Regions from separate parts of the Homo sapiens genome. Here regions 1, 3, 4 and 5 are each linked to region 2. Evidence: fine-mapped expression QTL. A gene starts in region 2. Each other region holds a variant in brackets. All regions are shown on one strand. Distances are between the middles of the regions.

Region 1 (4,000 bases), 60 kb before region 2:
GCTGGCCCCACTGGTTTCTAGAAAAGGATTGCAGGCCTGAACTATCTCCAGTCTGGAGTACGAAAGAGACAGAGGCTTACCAAGGCTGTTGCCTGCCCAGACACATGACAATGAATGGAGTTGGGGGAGGGGAACCCCAATGGGTTAACCCTAGAGCTTGAACTCCGGACTTCTGCACCAGCCACCTTCCCACTCAGAATCACCTCCTGTTAACCCTCTTTACCAAGGGGTCATCTGTGGTCTCATCCCCACCGAACCTGAGAGAGTGAGACCCCAGCCTGGCGTGGTGGGGAAAGGCAGGTGACAAGAGTCACATTTCCCCCATCCACCTAGAGCAGGGGAAGGGCCGAGGTGAGGGTCGAGCCAGGCTGGAACAGGCCTGAAGCTGGGTGGGCACAGGGAGAAGGTAGGTGGTGGGCTTGCAAAGCCTGAGCACTGGGGGTAAGCAGGCAGTTCCTGGTGCCCGGCATAGAGCTGGCACTTGCTGGGAATACAGAATGAATGGAAAGGTGAGTGGGTCTGGGCCGACTCACCTCCTCCTTCACCAGGGCGTAGCAGGACGGACATTGCTGGCAGTGTGTGCCGTCTGCCGTGAGGAAGAAGTTGTCGTGGCAGCGGTCACATTTGTAGCCCTCGAAGCCAGGCCTGCACACGCATGTGCCGTTCTCGTGGCACTGGGCCGAGGCAGCGCCCAGTGGGGAGCACCTGCAGGCTAGAGGGGCCAGGGGCAGTGCGTGCTGGGTTTAGAGGGGCCAGGGGCAGTGCGTGCTGGGTTTAGAGGGGCCAGGGGCAGTGCGTGCTGGGTTCTGGGTGTTCCCAGAATGCCCTAGGCAGCATCAAAAACATTCCTGGGCCCTTCCCTGGAGATTCTGATTCAGAAGGTTGAAGGTGGCACAGAGCCTGGCTTATTCCAATGTTCCCTCGGGATCTGAGGACCAGCCAGGTTTAGGAACTGCCAATGCAGCCCAACTCTACAGGTGAGGAAACTGAGGCCCAGAGAGTGACATGATGGCCCCAGGCACACAGGCACTTAACAGCGCGTCTGGGACTACATTCCTGGCCGGCATGAGGACACTGGCAGGCTGCAGAGGGCCAGAGACTTGGGCGAGGGTCACAAGCACAGCCCTGCACCCACTGCTCTGGGTCATGTGACTCTGCTGTCCCGGCCACTGCCACGGGAGCAACTCGCTCCATGCTTCCGGCTGCTCTCGGGACCCTGTCCCATGTCTGACGATCCTTTCCTGCTGCGCCCATTTTCCCCATCAGTCATCTCTGCCCAGAGACCCTCGGGCCCCACCCTCAGGGCAGCCCGGGAAGGACCCAGCCTCCTTACCCCGGCAGCCCTTGATGGAGAAGCCGAAGAAACCCAGCTGGCACCTGTCACAGGCCTGGCCTGTGACACCTGGGCGGCAGGTGCACTGTCCAGTCTTGGGATGGCACTGGTCCTCCTGGGAGCCCAGTGGGTGACACTTGCAGCTGTGATCAGGGAAGGAACTGGGTCTGAGGCAAGCTCAGGGCCACTCCTGGCCCAGCCTCTGCCGGCTGCAGCTGGCTGGGGCCTCAGATCACAGCCCTCTGCTGACAAGACCCCATCTCCTCTCGGTGCATGGCACAGCTTCCCCAGCTGTGCTCTGGAAAGCACAAGTTTCCCAGGATGCTCAGGGAGAAAAGAAGATAAAATAAGGCTATGGGGACAAACGTGTCTCGGGGAGACTATACCCCTCTGTTGGAAAGTCATGATGCAATCAGCATAGTAAGAGCTCTGAGAAGTCCTGCAAGGAAGAAACCTGTTTGCTCCACTTGGTGTTTCCCTGGAGTCCTCCTGTTCCCTAAGAACACTTGTCTAAGGTGCTACTGTGGCCAAAAGGCCACCCAGGGAGAGTGTCACTGAGAA[G/C]GGAATCAGAGACCAAACCGGCCACCTGCCTGCCTGGACACCCTTTAGGGCTGCTCTTGGCCTGCATCCTGGGCTGGCAGGAGCATGAGTCGGATGCCAAGAGTCCATCCCTTTGCTCCCCTTCGGCAAAGGGCACAATGTGCCTGGCAGTGGGCCTAGGACAACACCTTCCAAACCAGGCCCCTCCCTGGGGGCTGCCCGATGCCTTCTTCCCTCCTGGAGAGGTCCCCAGGGCACCGGCAGTCTCACCCTACCTACCTCCGGCAGCCCCTCCCAGGCTGGAGGTCGAAGAAGCCAGGGTAGCAGCGGCTGCAGTCCCGTGCAGTCACATGAGGCAGGCAGGAGCATTGGCCTGTCACTGGGTCGCAGGGCATCTGCTCACTGACCGAGCCCTGTGGGTGACAGCTGCAAGCTGGGGGCAGGAGCAGGAAGGGGTGTTGGGAACAATGCAGATTGTCTGTTCCAACTTTGGGGGTCCAACAGAGGCAGAGGAGATGGGGGAGCCTCCAGAGATGATACGGCACATTCAGCCCAGATTCAGACGCCACTGCTGGAAAAAGGCTCCAGGGCCAAGCTCAAGCCTCAGCCCATTGACTATATCCTTAGAGGGACAGCCCAGGACGGTCATGGTAACAGACAATCCTTCTGAGCCTGCCCTGAGCCCTGGCAGGCTGCAGAGGGCCAGAGACTTGGGCGAGGGTCACAGGCACAGCCCTGCACCCATGGCTCTGGGTCCCGTGACCCTGTTCTCCTGGCCACTGCCAGGGGAGCATCTCACTCTGGGCCAGAGCGGTGTTTCCTGCAGGGGTTCCACAAAGCGAGAGTGAGCAGGAGCCGGCAGCTGCTGCGTGGGAAAGGGCTCCAAGCACATCAGTGTGGAGCAAAGGCTGAGCTTCCCTCCTGCAGGGCTCTGGGAGCCTCCCAGGGGCTGAGTGTTAACTGAGGTGATGAGGGGAGGCATGGCCATGGAGACCCGGCGCAGGGCGATCACCGGGTCAGCCATACGTGCTGACTGCAGAGTGGGAGGTAAGCACTAGACAATCCAGGCTTCGGATCAGAGTTTATAAGATCTCCCGGCTGAAAGAGACCTGGGAGAGGGGCAAACCCTTGTGCTTTCTGGACATGGAGACAGGAAGGGAAGTGACCTGCCTGAGGCTGGACAGCCTTGCAGAGGAGCCAGCTGGTTCTGGTGGGTTCCTCAGCCACCCCTTCTGGGCCCTGAGCCAGGGCAGAAGAGAAGGGGCCCACCATGTGCCACCCTGGGGTCTGGAGGTAGGTACTCACGCATGCATTTGTCTGCGGGTCGAGGGGCCAGGGCGCTCCCGTAGAAGCCTTCCTGACAGTGCTCACAGTGGTCACCCGTGGTGTTGTGCAGGCAGCGCAGGCAGTGGCCAGACAGGGGGTCACAGTTGCCCACGGCATTGGGGTCCACGTTCCCGCTACACTGGCACTGGTGGCAGGGCTGGGGGTGCCCAAAGAGCCCCAGCGGGTCCCCAAAAAAGCCATCATCACAGACCTCACAGCGCCGCCCTGTGTGTAGAGGGAGCACGTGTGGGGAACACAGCTGGCTGGACCCACCAGGGATGAGGGTGGGTGTGAAGCAGAGCAAGCGTCCCTCCACCTTCCCCGGAGCAGCACGGGCTTGGGCAGGAGGACCTGGGACCGGCCCCCAGTGGCTGCCCACAGCTGTGTGGTCCTGAGCAAGCCACTGCGCCTCTAGGAGCTCAGGTTCCTCATCTCTAAAGCGGGGACAACAATGGCAGCTCCCCACAGGACTGTGGGGAGGATTCAGTGACATAATTTGTGAAAAGCGCTTAACATCCAGCCTGACATGTAGTAAGCACTCAGGAGTGGTGGCTATCATCACATATCTGTCCTCACACCCTCATCATCATCGTCACCATTATCTTCACCATCACCACTATCCCCAGCAGCACCTCAATCACCATGACCTTCTTCATCATCATCCTTATATTATTATTATTATTATTATTATTGAGATGGAGTCTCACTCTATCACCCAGGCTGGAGTGTAGTGTGGTACGATCTCGGCTCACTGCAACCTCTGCCTCCTGGGTTCAAGCAATTCTCCTGCCTCAGCCTCCC
Region 2 (4,183 bases):
TGGAGATCTAAGGGCTTCTGCACCTCGGCAAGTCATGAGCAGGGCAGAGAGGCCATGCCACCGGGCGCAGCTGCCCAGCAGCACGAAGAAACTTAGTCCTCCTCCCCAGAGGGTTAAACTTTGCCTGTGCAGTGATGAACATCACAGCTTCTATCTTCCAGAACCCACCCGAGGACTGCAGGCAGCTTCAGGGGTCCACTGAATACCTGAAGTTGACCAGAAGACCCAAGATCAGGAGCCCCTGCCCTAGAGGGTGACCAATTCAGTCCTTGGTGTGTCACCTCCCCAACAGTTCTGGTCTAGGATGGAAAACCATTACAGGGGATTATAATTGCAACCTAGAACCAAAGCTCAGCAAGTGACTCCCTGCCTCTCCCGCCCCACGGGGCACCCCTCAGTCTATCCTTCTGGCTATCTAGGGGTACAGGTCCTGTTTTTTTTTCTTCTTTTTTTCATTCTTTCTTTTTATTAAGAGATAAGGTCTCACTCTGTAGCCCAGGCTGTAGCACAGTGGCACTATCATATTTCATGCAGCCTCAACCTCTCAGTCTTAAGTGATCCTCCTGCCTCAGCCTCTTGAGTAGCTGGGACCATAGGTGTGCACCACCACGCCCAGCTTTTTTTTTTTTTTTTTTTTTTTTTTGAGACGGAGTTAGCTCTGTTGCCCAGGCTGGAGAACGGTGGTGCGACCTCGGCTCACGGCAACCTCCACCTCCCGGGTTCAAGCGATTCTCCTGCCCCAGCCTCCTGAGTAGCTGGAACTACAGGCACCTACCACCACGCCCGGCCAAATTTTCTATTTTTAGTAGAGACGGGTTTTCACCATGTTGGCCAGGCTGGTCTCGAACTCCTGACCTCAGGTGATCCGCCCGCCTCGGCCTCCCAAAGTGCTGGGATTACAGACGTCAGCCACCGCGCCCGGCCTATTTTTCTTTATTTTTTGTAAAGATGGGATCTCACTACGTTGCCCAGGCTGATCTTGAACTCCTGGGCTCAAGCGACCCTCCCATCTCGGCCTCCCAAAGTGCTGGGATTTCAGGAGTGAGCCACCGCACCCAGCCTAATTCCTATTTCTGAGCCCCTCCATCCAACACCATATCTGGGTCCTGCAGCCCAACCTGGGCGCACAGCAGCTCAGGCCTCAGCCTCAGACCCCCAGTGGAGTGGGGACACGGGGTGCGGTGGCGGTGCCCCCAGCCCGCGCTTACCTAGGCGGAGGGTGATGTTGACCGAGGTGGGGTACTGCACGCCGAAGGCCATGGACGGGCTCTGCCACCAGGTGCTCTCGTCCTGGCTGTGGAAGTCGGTGAGGTAGGAGGCGTTGTGGTGGCGCTGGGGGTCGGCGGCGTCGCAGCGCTGGCAATGAGCCCCCGCGCCCGCGGCGCCCACGTGGGGACAGAAGTCCTCGGGCGGGCTGCCGCACGTGTGCGAGGCCTGGGCGAGCCGCCCAAACGCCGCGTTCTCGAACACCGGCAGGCAGCGCTGCGGGCGCCCTGCGCCGTCATAGCACGCGCCCATGCCCGCGCCGGCCGCCCGCGGTGCCAGCAGCGCCAGCCCCAGCAGAAGCGCAGCCGCCGCCATGGTCAAGGGCACCGACGCCGCGCGCTCTGCCGGCCCCGCTCGGCTAGGGTGGGCGCGGACCGCGCGCTGGCCGCCAGGACCCGCCTTCCCCTGCGGGGCGGGGAGGCTGGAGGGAGGGGCGGGCGGCGGCGGCCCCACCCCACTAAAAATACCAGGGACCGCGCCGTCCCCGGGCGCCCACTCCCACCTGCTGGACGTGCCCGGCAGTGCGCGGCTCGGGAGTCTGCCCCAGAGGCGACCCGGGCCTCTTTGAGCCTCAGTTTCCTCGTCTGTGGAGTGGGGTCGGTAAAGATGCAGGCTCATTCTCGCCATTGGGAGGCTTCAATGGCTGCTCATTAAACAGAAACTGTTCAGCAGTGCCTTGGAGTCCTGAGATAAAAGGGGACAAGAGGATCTATCTCTAACTGATCGCTACCGTTTGCGCATCTCCTCCTAGCAATAAAGTGTGCCCTGGACAGGGTTGTGAGATGGCTCCGCATAGCTCCTGTCGCCCTTAACCCTGAAAAGCACTCCTGCTGCCGGCTGCGCTCTGTCCCCACAGCAAAGAGATTCTAACCTGACATTTGTGACAAGGGTACCTGGTCTTATCACAAATGTCACCTCAGAGAGGGCTTCCTTGTCTTCTGCCCCAACCCCCATAAATGCCCCCTTTACTCCCCATTTATTAACATTAGCAAATCGAGGGAGAGAAGTCATTCGATAAAATTTAGCAGCCAGGTCGTGCGCGGTGGCTCACGCCTGTAATCCTAGCACTTTGGGAGGTGGAGGCGGAAGGATAACTTGAGGCCAGGAGTTCGAGACCAACCTGGGCAAAATAGTGAGACCCTATCTCTACAAAAAAATACAAAAATTAGCCCGGCGTCATGGCACAAGCCTGTAGTCCCAGCTACCTGGGAGGCTGAGGTGGAAGGATCCCTTGAGCCCGGGAGGTTAGGCTGCAGTGGGCTGTGATCATGCCATTGCACTCCAGCCTGGCCAACAGAGTCAGACCCTGTCTCGAAAAAAAAAAAAAAAAAAAGGCAGCCATTCCCAGACGAACTCTAAGGAAAATAGAAATAAATTTCCTGGCCTGGCGCGGTGGCTCTCGCCTATAATCCCAGCATTTTGGGAAGTTGAGGAAGGCAGATCACCTGAGGTCAGGAGTTCGAGACCAGCCTGGCCAACATAGTGAAACCCCGTCTCTACTAAAAACACAAAAATTAGCTGGGTGTGGCGGTGCGTGCCTGTAATCCCAGCTACTCAGGAGGCTGAGGCAGGAGAATTGTTTGAACCCGGGGGGCAGAAGTTGCAGTGAACTGAGATCATGCCATTGCACTCCAGCCTGGGCAACAAGAGAGAAACTCCATCAAAAAAAAAAAAAAGAAAGAAAAGAAAGAAAGAAAATTTTTGGAAGCAAGATGAACTGTAGTGGGCTGATTCACTACCAGTTATTTACACATGATTAAAACAATACGGTTGTGGAAAGGACTACAGAATAGACCCATGGAATAAGTTAGAGATTTCAGAACTATATCTAAGTAGAGTTAGTATATGATATCACCACTGGTACCTAAGGTTATTTTGGAAGTTCTAGCTAATACAATAAGACAAAAAACTTAAAAGATATAAATATTTATATCTTCTACTTACCTGAACATACATCTAGAAAATCTAAAAGATTCTACTAAGACTATTAAAATTAATAAGAGCTCCGTAAGATGGCTGACTACAGGATAGAGTACGAAAACCAATGCCAGCAATAGGCATTTTCTGGCTGGGTGCGGTGGCTCACGCCTGTAATCCCAGCACTTTGGGAGGCTGAGGCAGGCAGATCACCTGAGGTCATGAGTTCGAGACCAGCCTGGGCAATATGGTGAAACCCCATCTCCACTAAAAATACAAAAATTAGCCAGGCATTGTGGCACACCTGTAATCCCAGCTACTTGGAAGGCTGAGGCACAAGAATCGCTTGAATTCAGGAGACAGAGGTTGCAGTGAGCCGAGGTCACGCAAATGCACTCCAGCCTATGCAATAGAGCAAGACCCTGTTTTTTAAAAAACAAAACAAAAACAAAACAAAACAAACAAAAAACTGATGCCAGCAATGATGTAGGAAATGGTAGAACACCTAATAATAAATCTGGTATGAAATGTGCAAGATATAAATGAATCAAATTATAAAATGCTACTGAGAGACAGAAAACCTGAAGAGACCAGCATCTATATTCACGGATTTCCAACTGTTTAAATATACAAATTCTCCCCAAGTTAAAATATCATTTAATGTAATTCCAAATTGTTTTTTTGATGGTGTTATGGAAGCTTCTTTGTTAAAGTTTTCTCTTATGGTCAAGAACATGATTGCAGCAGACTCTTGATGGTCCACGCAGCTACCCTGAGCTGGGCTGTGCACCCATCCAAAGCAAATTCATCTATCAGGCACAGGAAACATGGCAGCCCACAGGAATTCTAGGAACCCACAAAAACTGTTCTAATATCTTTAAAGTCAGAAGAAAAAAAAGAACTTTTAGGCTGAAGAACATGTTTTAACGTATGATATTAATATACCCGTCTTTAGATCAATGCAATGGTTAAATATAATTTTTAAAAATGTTAGTGCCAG
Region 3 (4,000 bases), 33 kb before region 2:
GCCTGTAGCAATTACCACTGTGAGGTCTGAACAGTGGTTTTCCAGTTCCTTCATTTCTACATTCATTACTTGGAATTCTTCTGCAAGGAAGGTTTGTCTCTTCATGCCCATCTATTTATGTATTCAATCATCTATTTACATCAGTATGGATTCGTGGATTTGACTTTATTCTCTGGGTTATAATCCAATACTATCGTTTATTTTGTTGCTCAAATTGTTTCAGCCCTGAGAGCTCTTTCACGTCGGCTCCTGTGTCCTTTTGACATGGGCCCACGTTCTGGTTTGGGCTGTTTTGTTTGTGTCTGTCTCTGTTTTTCAGCATTTCCTTGCTTCCTGGCACTGTAAGACGCCTTGGGCTTATCTTGTCTTTTTCCAGCCCCAGCCCCAGAATCTGCCACTTCTCCAAGCAGCTCTGGTGAATGTCAGACACAAAGCCAGGAAGAAGAGATAGTGTGTACCCAAGGAGCTAAACCCATGTTTGTCTGCTGGCCGCACTGCTGGAGCTTGGAGGCCTCTTGAACACTTGAAAGAGGAAGTTTATGTACTTCCTGGCCTTGGGAGAGCCCCTTTGACTTGCAGAGCTTCAGATGCCCCATTTGTACCATGATCAGACTGCAAAGATGGCAAACAGGCTCAAAATCCAGCTCAGTGGGTAGGGGCTTCCTGAAGCAGGGTGTTAAGAAGGATCCTGAGGTTATAGTAGGGCTCATGGCCAAGACTGCTGTGCCCCATTAGTGATGTCTGTTGTGGGTGTGAAAGGGGAGGGTTGTGATAGTGTTGCCTTAGTGATGTCTGCCATGGGTATGCCATCAGTGATGTCTGCCATGGTGTGAAAGGGGAGAGTTGATGGTGCTCCATTAGTGATGTCTGCTGTGGGTATGAAAGGGGAGGGTTGTGATAGTGCTCCCTTAGTGATGTCTGCCATGGGTATGCCATTAGTGATGTCTGTTGTGGGTGTGAAAGGGGTGTGTTGACAGTGCTCCATGAATGATGTCTGCTATGGGTGTGAAAAAGAAGGGTTGTAGTAGTGCTTCATTAGTGATGCCTGCCATGGCTATGAAAGGGAAAGTTTGATATGGCACCATTAGTGATGTCTGCCATGGCTGTGAAAGGCAAGGGTTGATAGTGCTCCATTAGTGATGCCTGCTGTGGGTATGAAAGGGGGAGGCTGTGATAGTTCTCCATTAGTGATGTTTGCCATGGTTATACCATTAGTGATGTCTGCTGTGGGTGTGAAAGGGGTGCATTGACAATGCTCCATGAGTGATGTTGGCCGTGAGTGTGAAAAGGGAGGGTTGTGATAGTGCTCCATTAGTGATATCTGCTGTGGGTAAGAAAGGGGAAGACTGTGATAGTGCTCCCTTAGTGATGTGTACCATGGGTATACCATTAGTGATGTCTGCTGTGGGTGTGAAAGGGGTGTATTGACAGTGCTGCATGAGTAATGTCTATTGAGTGTGAAAAGGGAGGGCTGTGATAGGTCTGCCGTGGGTGTGAAAGGGTTGTGATAGTGCTCCGTTAGTGGTGTCTGTCATGGGTGTGAAAGGGGAGCGTTGATAATACTCCATGAGTGATGTCTGCTGTGGGTGTGAAACGGGAGGCCTGTGATAGTGCTCCATTAGCTATGTCTGCAGTGAGTGTGAAACGGGAGGCCTGTGATAGTGCTCCATTAGCGATGTCTGCCACAGCAGGTGGTAGTACGAGCACCATCTATTTACTATCCCTGGATTAGATGGTCTCTCCTATCATTCCAGTTCTTTCTTTTCAGGATTCTAAGCTAAGACATGTATTTTCTCAGCTTATGAATGATCAGTGGTGTTGAATCAAAGCACAAACAGTGCCATAAAGCTTTTGAGTAACTTCCTGTATGACAGA[T/C]ACATGGTGCCCCAGGAAGGGCACAGGGTGACAAGGTCACCCAAGTCCATGAAGACCGTGCCCCTTGCTCCTCCCCGCACTCCACAGCTTTGGTGCCTCATCAGTGAGCCCCCAGGTCACTTCCAGCAAGCTTACTGCTGGATTAGCTCACAAACCTGTCACATAGGTTGCCTTCCACATTCTCTTTGCAGGGGCAGCGCCCACTGCGGGGGTCACAGGTGTCCAGGCTGCCAGCGGGATTGCAAGTGCAGGGTCTGCCAATGAGACAGGACAAGAGGAAAATGTGCAATGAGCAAATTCAGAATGGCAACAGCCCATCCTAGGAAGGGAGCTTTCCCTGCTGCCAACATCAGGAGTGAGGCTGACGCAGGTAACTGACCTGGCTTTACTGTTCCCATCTTGCCAAGGAAGTGACCCATCCATCACTGGTACAGTGGTCCATCTTCCCACCCACCACACATCCATCCAGGATCCTTCCATCTGTCATCCACGCACTCACTCATCATCCATGAATCTTTTTTTTTGGGACAGAGTCACACTTTGCCACCCAGGCTGGAGCGCAGTGTCATGATCTTGGCTCACTGCAACCTCTGCCTCCTGGGTTCAAGTGATTCTCCTGTCTCAGCCTCCTGAGTAGTTAGGACTACAGGCATGCATCACCATGTCCAGCTAATTTTTGTATTTTTAGTAGAGACAGGGTTTCACCATGTTGGCTAGACTGGTCTTTAACTCGTGACCTCAGGTGATCCACCTGCCTTGGCCTCCCAAAGTGCCAGGATTACATACATGAGCCACCGTGCTCGGCCTCCATGAATCTTTCTGTCTATCCCCTCACTCCTCCATCCACTTATTCATCCTTCCTTCTTTCTGTCCAGCAGCCACCTATCCACCCATTCATTCACCCATCCATGCATCTTTCCATCCCTCCCTCCATCCATCCACTCATCTAATAAGACATGGTTCCTCCCTGGTGAATCCCAGTCTGGTGTAGACAGACAGATCACGCAGACCCTGTACCGCGATACGTGTTGTGGGAGATGTACGAGAGGCTGTGCCTGCACTGTGGGGCCTCTGACTCAGCCTGGGTGTGCAGGCGAGGGGCAGGTGGGAGGGAAGGTGTCCCGAGAGCGGGGCTGCTCAGCTGAGACCTGAAGAATGAGCAGGAGGCTGTGAGCCACAGGCTGGGGAGAGGGGGCAGGGGTGGGAGGTGTGGCACCTGCAAAGGTCCAGAGGACAGAGGGACCCCAGGGAAGCAGCCAGGCCCCATCTCATGGTCAGTTTTATGCCCAGAACCACCAAATATTTTACAAGGAATCAGAGCTCTCCTAGATATCCCCAATGTGTTTCTGCTGCCTCTCAAATATACAAAGATGCCCGTTATCAACCAAAGCAAGTTCACTTAAAAGTGCTTCTGGGCCAGGCGCGGTGACTCACGTCTGTAATCAGCACTTTGGGAAGCCGAGGAGGGTGGATTACTTGAGCCCAGGAGCTTGAGACCAGCTTGGGCAACATGGCAAAACCCCATCTCTACCAAAAAATACAAAAATTAGCCGGGTGTGGTGGTGCACATTTGTAATCTCAGCTACTCAGGAGGCTGAGATGAGAGGATCACTTGAGTCTGGGAGGCGGAGGTTGTAGTGAGTAGAGATCGCGCCACTGCACTTCAGCCTGGGTGACAGAGGAGGACTCCATCTTAAAAAAAAAAATAGAGATAGTGGGCATGGTGGTGCATGCTTGTAATCCCAGCTACTCAGAAGGCTGAGGCAGAGAATTGCTGGAACCGGGGAGGTGGAGGTTGCAGTGAGCCAAGATGGCACCACTGCATTCCAGCCTGGTTGACAAAACAAGAATCTGTCTCAAAAAAAAAAAAAAAAAGCTTCTAAATTTATCATAGGTTTTTGTTTTGTTTTGTTTTTGTTTTTTGGCCATTGTATACTTTCTCAATCAAGTGATGGCAAATGTGTTGGGGTAAGGTCCAGACCCCAGGAGCCCCTGTCCCTCTCTCCCCTCAGCTGTCCCACTAGGTACCAAACTCGGTGCACCCAGATGACACTCAGCCTCTCCCACCCCGCTCCCCACACTGCGTGCCCTGCTATCCAGAGGCCCAGAGAACCCCGAAGGTCAG
Region 4 (4,000 bases), 38 kb before region 2:
ATCTGCTTGGGGGCATGGTCAGACCTGGAAGCCTGCCCTGCCCTTTCAGTGGGGTTTTGAGCTCAGCATGAAGACAGCCTGAAGACCCCCACATGGGGGCCCTGGGACATCAGGGCCATCTCTAATAGTACCAGACTTGACCTCATCTTCAGGTTCTCAGAGAACTTTCTCACCTGTGACCTCATGAACCCTGTCCTTCCAGTGGCCCATGTCATTAACAGCACCTCAGGCAAGGAGGCCACCTGGTTAGGAAGGGGCCCAGCCACGACGGGAGCCCAGGCCTTCTGGTCCCCAGTGCCAGTTCAGTGCCTCCTCCCTCTGGCCACAGCAGTTAACACGGAGCACAGCCCAGCACACAGCGAGTGACCTTAAGGAGGTGCCTCTCCAGGGGGTAGCGGGCAATGAGGCAGAGGCCAAATACCTGGGGCAGCCAAGGGGTAAGAAGGAAGGAACGGAGTGGGGAAAGAGGTCAGAGAAAGGAAGATGTCAACATGAAGAGAAGTTTGCAGACAGGCATTTAGAAGGAACTAGAAGGCCAGGCACAGTGGCTCATGCCTGTAATCCCAGCACTCTGAGAGGCCGAGGTGGGTGGATCATCTGAGGTCAGAAGTTCGAGACCAGCCTGGCCAACATGGCGAAACCCCATCTCTGCTAAAAATACAGAAATTAGCCAGGCATGGTAGCAGCTGCCTATAATCTGAGCTACTCAGGAGGCTGAGGCAGGAGAATCGCCTGAACCCGAGAGGCGGAGGTTGCAGCGAGCTGAGATTGTGCCACTGCACTCCAGCCTGGGTGACAGAGCAAGACTCTGACTCAAAAAAAAAAAAAAAAAAAAAAAAAAATCAGCTGGGTGTGGTGGCTCACACCTATAATCCTAGCGCTCTGGGAGGCCGAGGCAGATGGATCATGAGGTCAAGAGATCAAGACCATCCTGGTCAACATGGCAAACCCCGTCTCTGCTAAAAAAATAAAATAAAAATAAATAAAAATAATAAAAATTTAAAAACTACTTGTTTTCTTTTTTTTTGAGACAGAGTCTCACCCTGTCACTCAGGCTGGAGTGCAGTGGCGCGATCTCGGCTCACTGCAACCTCTGCCTCCCAGGTTCAAGCGATTCTCCTGCCTCAGCCTCCCGAGTAGCTGGGATTACAGGAGCTGGCCACCACGCCTGGCTAATTTTTGTATTTTTAGCAGAGACGGGGTTTCGTCATGTTGGCCAGGCTGGTCTCGAACTCTTGACCTCAGGTGATCCGCTCCCCCCACCCCCACCCCGGCCTCCCAGAGTGCTGGGATTACAGGCGTGAGCCACTGCGCCCAGCCACAGTTTCCATTTCTAAGACAGCAAATATCCATACAAACCACCCACATAAACAAAAGCACTTTGGGGTTCTCAATAATTTTCAAGAGCATAAAGGGATCCAGAGGCCGGGTGCGGTGGCTCACACCTGTAATCCCAGCACTCTGGGAGGCTGAGGAGGGTGGATCAGTTGAGGTCAGGAGTTCAAGACCAGCCTGACCAACATGGTGAAACCCCCGACCTGTACTAAAAATACAAAAATAAGCTGGGCGTGGTGGTGGGTGCCTGCAGTCCCAGCTACACAGGAGGCTGAGGCAGGAAAATCACTTGAACCTGGGAGGCGGAGGTTGCAGAGAGCTGAGATCACGCCATTGCACTCCAGCCTGGGCAACACAGTGAGACTCCGTCTTAAAAAAAAAAAAAAAAAGAGGAATTCAGAGACCAAAAAGTTTTGAGAACTCCTGCGCAAGGGCAACTGTGAGACAAAATGAGATGACACCCCTGAAGGGCCGGCCACACCCAGTGCCTGGCCCAATGTGAGAACAGATCATGACACTGTTCTTAGGGTCTAGAAAATGAGTCCTGCCCAACGCTGACACCCTAGACCCCCGGACCCAGGACCCAGACACGCGGCGCCGGTCCGCGCATCTCTCGGTCCTGCTTTCTGCGCGGCTTCCAGCAGAGGGCGCGCGGCCCTCATGTCTGGGGCCGCCCCAGCGTCGGCCCTGAGGTTCTTCTGTTTCAGCTGATGCCTCGCTCCTTCCTGGGGACAGGCGGAAGGTGCGGGGCGCTCCGTGGGACATCGCTGGGGCCCACGCAGCCTCTGGTTTAATGCAGAGCTCCGAGCTCTGCTGCTTTCCTCTTTAAATATGCGGCTGTGCCACCTGGAGTCAGGGACCACGGTATA[G/A]GCCACCACAGCGGTTAAGGGCAAAACAGCTGGGCGCGGACACTCATAATCCCAGCACTTTGGGAAGCCGAGGTGGGCGGGATTGCCTGAGCTCAGGAGTTCTAGACCAGCCTGGGCAACATGGTAAGACCCCGTCTGTACAAAAAAAAAAAAAAAAAAAAAAAAAATACAAAAATTAGCTCGGCATGGTGGTGCACGCCTGTAGTCCCAGCATTTTGGGAGGCGGAGGTGGGCAGACTACTTGAGCCCAGGAGATTGAGACCAGCCTGGGTCTAAAGACATGGCAAAACCCTGTCTTTAGAAAAAAATATAAAAATTAGCCGGGCACGGTGGTGCACACCTGTGGTCCTAGCTACTCAGGAGGCTGAGGTGGGAGGATCACGTGAGCCCAGGGAGGTGGTGGCTGCAGTGAGCTGTGCTGTGCAATCTTGCACCACTGCACTTCAGCCTTGGTGACTCAGCAAGACCCTGTGTCCAAAAAAAAAAAAAAAAAAAAAAAAAAAAAGGAGCAAAACTCAGGAGCTGACAAATGCAGTGCTCACAACTGTTATGTGGCCTCAGGCAAGTGGCCTACCTTTTGTAGGTCTCAGTTACTTCATCATTGAAAGGGGAATGAGAATCCTTGCATGTTAGGTGCTCAGCACAGTGCCTGGCAAACAGCAGGTGCTCAATAAGTGGAGGCCAGGAGACTGAGCCTGAATCCCCAGTGTTTAGACACACCAAGGGAGGCCAGTCTCAACGGGGTGAGTGGGAAATTCCCCTACAGGATCCAAAAAGCGTCACGTACCCGGCCCCCAACCCCACCACGGGTATAAAGAGAAGAGTCAGGGACTGGGGAGGGAGCTGGGGGTCGCAGGTGGGCACTGGGGAGCCATCATCTCACCCCCGACCCCACCTAGGCTGTGCAGGCCTGTGGCTCCTCTCCACAATGGGAGATCCACTAATGCAAGATCTCCCCAGGGCAGGATCACCTGCCTAGGCTGGGAGCAGACCCTTGGGAGGCGTTTGCAGGGAGCATCTCTTACCCTGGTGGAAATCGCTGAGGATGTGATGCACCTGGAACTGGGCAGTGGACGCGCACACCTTGGAGTGGCCATAGCAGAAACAGCTGCTGCAGCCAGCTGGATTGTGGGGCTGCAGGTTAAAGGTCCCCGGGCGACATCTGAAATGGAGGCAGGACATGCCCACGAGGGCCACGTGAATCAGCCAGGAAGGGGCGGGGCCAGGGTATCCCAGCTGGACCAATGAGAGTCTAGAATCACTGCAGAAACTTAAAAACAATTTTTTTTCAGAATTCTAGAAGAGTAGTAAGAACATTACAGATTGTTCCCATACCTGCTTCAGACAGCCTCCCCTGATGCTGACATCTGACATTACCACAGTACATTTGTCAAAACTAAGTTAACTAAACTCCAGACTTTATTAGGTTTTGTTTTTTTGTTGTTGTTGTTTTTTTTTTTTTTTGAGACAGAGTCTTGTTCTGTGGCCCAGGCTGGAGTGCAATGGTGCAATCTTGGCTCACTGCAGCCTCCGCCTCCCGGGTTCAAGTGATTCTCCTGCCTCAGCCTCCCGGGTAGCTGGGATTGCAGGCGCCTGCCACCACACCCGGCTAATTTTTGTATTTTTAGTAGAAACGGGATTTCACCATGTTGGCAGGTTGACCTCGAACTCCTGACCTCAGGGGATCCGCCCGCCTCAGCCTCCCAAAGTACTGGGATTTCAGGCTTGAGCCACCGCGCCCAGCGACTTTAATAGGATTTCTCCACTTTTTCCTCTAATGTCTGGTTTCTGCTGCA
Region 5 (4,194 bases), 85 kb before region 2:
CCAGCAAGGGGCTAGGCAGAATGGGATGGGGCTGAGGTCAGGGCAGCAGTCCAGGGGGCAGGCCCCTCCTCCCCAGTAAGACCAGCGCCCACCTCTCCTAGCTGACGCTCCTCTGTCCACTCACCCAAGGGTTTGGATTTGGCCAAGCTGCATGACCTTAGGCGAGGCACTTGATCTGGCTGAGCTTCAGTCCCCTGATCTTCACAATGAAGTAACCCAGAACGCACTAAGCAGGGGCTTTTGTAACTTTGATGACTTGCTGGATGGTTTAAGCAGAGAGTAAAAGCTTAGCGTTACCACCCTTGGTGGATGGGAGCTGACTTAGGACAGAGCCCTCATAATGCACTTCCCTCTCCAGGCTCCAACAGCCTATTGCCCTGGCCGGTTGGGCTGGTTGGCTCCAGTCAGCCATCCTACAGGGCAGGGGCCACCCCACCTTCTGCTCAGCTGCTGGACTGCATTGCTAGCCAGATGTTCAACAGCTGCCGCATTCCACCCGGCAGCGGCCCCACCTCTGGGGCCAGAGAATAGATCAGCACATGCACCAGGCATGATCAGACTGCGTGAGTCACAACATGTCAGGCCCGAGTTCTCCACCCGTCGGGGATGCTGGGACTGAGCTGAGCTGGATCCCACGGCTTGAGTGGATAAAGGCTGAGTGCCAAGAGCAGGCACCAGGACGACTGTGTGCCATCGGCTGAGAAACTGGAGGGAGGCGGGAGGGGGACATCAGACCCTATCCCAGAGGTCTTGGAAGAACTCCATATTCTCGACATCACTTACACCAGACGCCAATCACCAAACTCACTGTGCAGCAGCAGCTCCCCCATCTTCGGCCTCTCCACCTCTGCCCAGACATCTAGGGACCAAGTCACTCCTAGCTCAGTTTAATCATGTCAATCCCCCACCGTAGCCTTGATTTTACAGTTTTCTGTGGAGGAGCACACCTCTTCTCTGAACACCATCTCCCATTAGGTTGGGGGGTGGCACCGGTCATCCATTATTGGCCTTAGATCCAGAGATCCTCATTATCCTGAACGGGGGTTGGTGGGACTTCACCTAAGCTGAGAAGCTGGAATCAGGACAGAGTCACCAGCTTGTCTCTTGCAAGCACTGGACCTGATGACATGTACACCTGGGGCCATTATGGGGGATGGCGGTAGGGGTGGGTGTCCTCTCCTATCAGGCACAAGAAAAACAAAGAAAGCCACTCTGCAAAGAGAAAAGAATGGGCCGGTTGCAGTGGCTCATGCCTGAAATCCCAGAACTTTAAGAGGCCAATGCAGGTATATCATCTGAGGTCAGGAGTTTGAGACCAGCCTGACCAACGTGGTGAAACCCTGTCTCTACTAAAAATACCAAAATTAGCTGGGCATGGTGGCAAGCACCTGTAGTCCTAGCTACTCGGGAGGCTGAGGCAGGAGAATTGCTTAAACCTGGGAGGTGGAGGATGCAGTGGGCAGAGATCATGCCACTGCACTCCAGCCTGGGCAACAGAGCGAGACTCCATCTCAAAAAAAATCAATAAATAAAGAGAAAAGAACGAAGCAGATACAGGAGAGGAGAGCAGAGACACAGACCAAGAAGAGAGGCGGGAGGGGGGAAGAGGGAAGCCAACCTATCCCGGAAGCCTCAGGCTCCCCTCCCTAGGCTATCTCCAACACGTGGCAGCCGTTTTTACTCCAGGGTTCCAAGCGACCCTCCCAACACCCCTTTTCTGCTGAAACCACCTCAGGAGGGGTTTGAGGCCTGCGGCCAAGAGCCCTGACTGAGCAGCTCCAACATCCCACCCCATTCAACCTGGGGTCCTGGAGTGATGCAAGCTGGCCGAGCCCCAACCCTGCGGGCCCCGGACTGTTGTCCACCCTCTTGCCTGGAATGCTTCCTTCTCTGCCTCCCCACCCTTCAAGGCCCCACCCACACCATCCCCCTCCTGGATGGCGCCCCTCCCTGCTCCTCACCATCCTCGGACACTTGGCTGTGAGTTCGTCTCGAGCCTGAACCAGAGGTCAGCTGAGGGCCTCTCCGCACCCCACCCCTCCAACTCACCAGCTCCTAGGCTTTACGTGGTAAGTGCCTGAGAGGACAGGGTAGGTACCTGTGATCACACAACCCCAGCAAAGCCCTCTAATGGGAGGTACTGGCCCAGCCACGAGCTCGGCTTTTGCCACCTTCCTACCAACGTCCGGTCCACATGCTGGCCACCTACTAGGTGTGTCATATGCACACCCACAGCCAGGGCCCTGGCTGCCCACCAGCCGGGGA[G/C]GGTGAGGCACACCACCCTGCCCAGTGAAAGGGTCCTTTATTTCCACGTTCAACGGAATTGGTCTGTGCTGCTGCCCTACCCCTGCCCCTGTCAGGGGAGCCACGGGAGGGGGCTGGGCCCGCAGAGGTGCCTGACTTCCCAATGCCGAGGCCTTGCCATCTGCTGGAAGAGGGTCTGGGAGAGGGGAGGGATGCCAAGAGGAAATGCTGAGGAGTCCTGGGCAGAGGCCAGCATGCGGGCCTGGCCACAGGGCGATTCCCAGACAGGACAGACTGGAATGGCAGCCAGGCTTGCACACCCTGGTGGCCTCCCGCATGGCAAGTGGTGCCGCAGGGCTGGTCTGGAAAGCGTCAATTAAAGGTCAACTGGGTTGCCGGGGGCACAGAGGCGTGCTCCTGGTAGCCTGAGCACCCTGACCTAGGCGCTTTTGGGCCTGGCTCTTTGGATAGATCACAGGCTGAAGTGGGTACAGGCCAGGGTGGGCCATTCCCTCAGGGCATCTGGTGCAGTCCCAGGACCCTGAGAGGGAAGCGTCCGGTGAAGGCAATGACACCCCCGCCAGGAATGGGCCTTGCTCTAGCCAGACTAGCAGGCCTGGCCACGGCCTCAGGGTCTCTGGGCCTCAGATTCTGCTGCTAAGAACCCTCCCGGGATCTTGCATTTCTTGGCCTGTTGGTCCCCTGGCTGTGTCGAGCTGTAGGGAGTGCACGCAGCAACACAGGTCAGGGAGCTGCTGTGAAACAGAGGGCAGCCAGCTCTGGGACTAGGGGCTTTGGCTGTTGCTGACCCCCTTGATCTCTGCAGATCTGCTGAGACCTCCCTGCTATCTGGAGTGAGTGGATGTAGCACCCCAGGGCATCTCATGTAACAACTTGCCCAACATCCAGAGGGTGTCCAGCACACAGGTGGCTCTCACAACAGCTGTGGACTGTAATGTGTGTGGACCGTAAGCTGCTGACTGGATGGATTAGACTTGAACACGTGTGGGTCATACACACAGACATGCACCCTCACGTGTGTATGTTATTGACACTGGGGTGTGCCCGTTTATGCATGTGCAGGGGTGAGAGTGTGCACTCATGTCCAGGTGAACTGGGTACGCACACTCAGTCCTGCTGGCAGGGAAGAAGCCACAGACAGAATCGGCAGGGAGTGACTATCCACACGGGGGCGAGTTCACAGCAGCCGGCTCCGGGGAATGTCTGTATGGGCACACCTGTGGGGTAGTGTGCACCCCCTGGGTCATGTAAACAGCAGGTGGGGGAGTGTGTGCCGGGGATCTGGGCAGCCCTCACTGCCAGCTGGCACAGTTCTCGGGCAGGCTGTGCAGAATGGCCTCCAGGTTCTGTTTGTCGGCGCGGATCTCGGCGAGGTCACTCTCGAAGCCCTGGATCTGCAGCTCCTGCTGCTGGGATTCCTGCTCCAGCAGACTGAGTTTCCTCTGCAAGGACCCCGGGGAGCCCAGCTGCAGCCTCAGGCGTTCTAGTGCCCACTGAGTCTCGTTCAGGGCCTGGGCTGGGGCTTGATGGGTGTCCAGCGACCCTGTGGTGGGGCACAAACAGCCTCACTGTGAGCCAGCAGCCCTGCAGGCCCCAGGGCACCTCCCAGCCCCTGAGCCTCTCCCCAGCTCAGGCCTCCCAGGATTCCAATGGCCCACCATCCACCAGGGAAAGATGGGGAGCAGAAGGGCTGGGAGGTGGGTGAGGACCCATAGCATCCCAACGGGCCCATGGGCAGACTCTAGAACATCCTCCTGGGTGGCACTTGACAAATGTCATTTTTGTTGATGGTTTTACTATTATTGTTAAAAAAGAAGGCCTCAGGTGAGTCCTCTCTGAGTCTTAGTTTACTCATTTACAAAACAGTGTGGGAGAAAGGCCCCTGTGATTTTTGCCAGCTTGAACATGCTGGCTCAATTCACTGACAGC

What was found.
Region 1: its variant is fine-mapped to the expression of LAMC3 in whole blood (TOPMed, PIP above 0.99).
Region 3: its variant is fine-mapped to the expression of LAMC3 in whole blood (TOPMed, PIP above 0.99).
Region 4: its variant is fine-mapped to the expression of LAMC3 in blood mononuclear cells (TOPMed, PIP above 0.99). The same link has a PIP of 0.9 or more in whole blood.
Region 5: its variant is fine-mapped to the expression of LAMC3 in lung (TOPMed, PIP 0.98).

What each region holds. Positions count from the first base shown.
Region 1 is chr9:131,066,384-131,070,383 of GRCh38, reverse strand. It overlaps LAMC3 (laminin subunit gamma 3), which reads right to left. Exons shown (of 28, transcript NM_006059.4): 14 at 3,179-3,424; 15 at 2,153-2,306; 16 at 1,334-1,476; 17 at 534-712. Among named protein-coding and RNA genes, the nearest start is that of AIF1L, 28 kb to the left of the region's middle. RefSeq lists an enhancer at 917-1,426. The variant G/C (reference allele first, on the strand shown) is at 1,895.
Region 2 is chr9:131,006,613-131,010,795 of GRCh38, reverse strand. It overlaps LAMC3 (laminin subunit gamma 3), which reads right to left and starts at 1,622. Exons shown (of 28, transcript NM_006059.4): 1 at 1,209-1,622. The coding sequence starts at 1,581.
Region 3 is chr9:131,039,766-131,043,765 of GRCh38, reverse strand. It overlaps LAMC3 (laminin subunit gamma 3), which reads right to left. Exons shown (of 28, transcript NM_006059.4): 7 at 2,031-2,129. Among named protein-coding and RNA genes, the nearest start is that of LAMC3, 33 kb to the right of the region's middle. The variant T/C (reference allele first, on the strand shown) is at 1,876.
Region 4 is chr9:131,044,890-131,048,889 of GRCh38, reverse strand. LAMC3 (laminin subunit gamma 3) reads right to left here. Exons shown (of 28, transcript NM_006059.4): 8 at 3,230-3,366. Among named protein-coding and RNA genes, the nearest start is that of LAMC3, 38 kb to the right of the region's middle. The variant G/A (reference allele first, on the strand shown) is at 2,205.
Region 5 is chr9:131,091,151-131,095,344 of GRCh38, reverse strand. It overlaps LAMC3 (laminin subunit gamma 3), which reads right to left. Exons shown (of 28, transcript NM_006059.4): 28 at 872-3,808. The coding sequence ends at 3,558. LOC124902289 (a long non-coding RNA gene) reads left to right here and starts at 1,973. Exons shown (of 3, transcript XR_007061825.1): 1 at 1,973-2,069. RefSeq lists enhancers at 518-1,019, 1,817-2,413, 2,414-3,012. The variant G/C (reference allele first, on the strand shown) is at 2,266.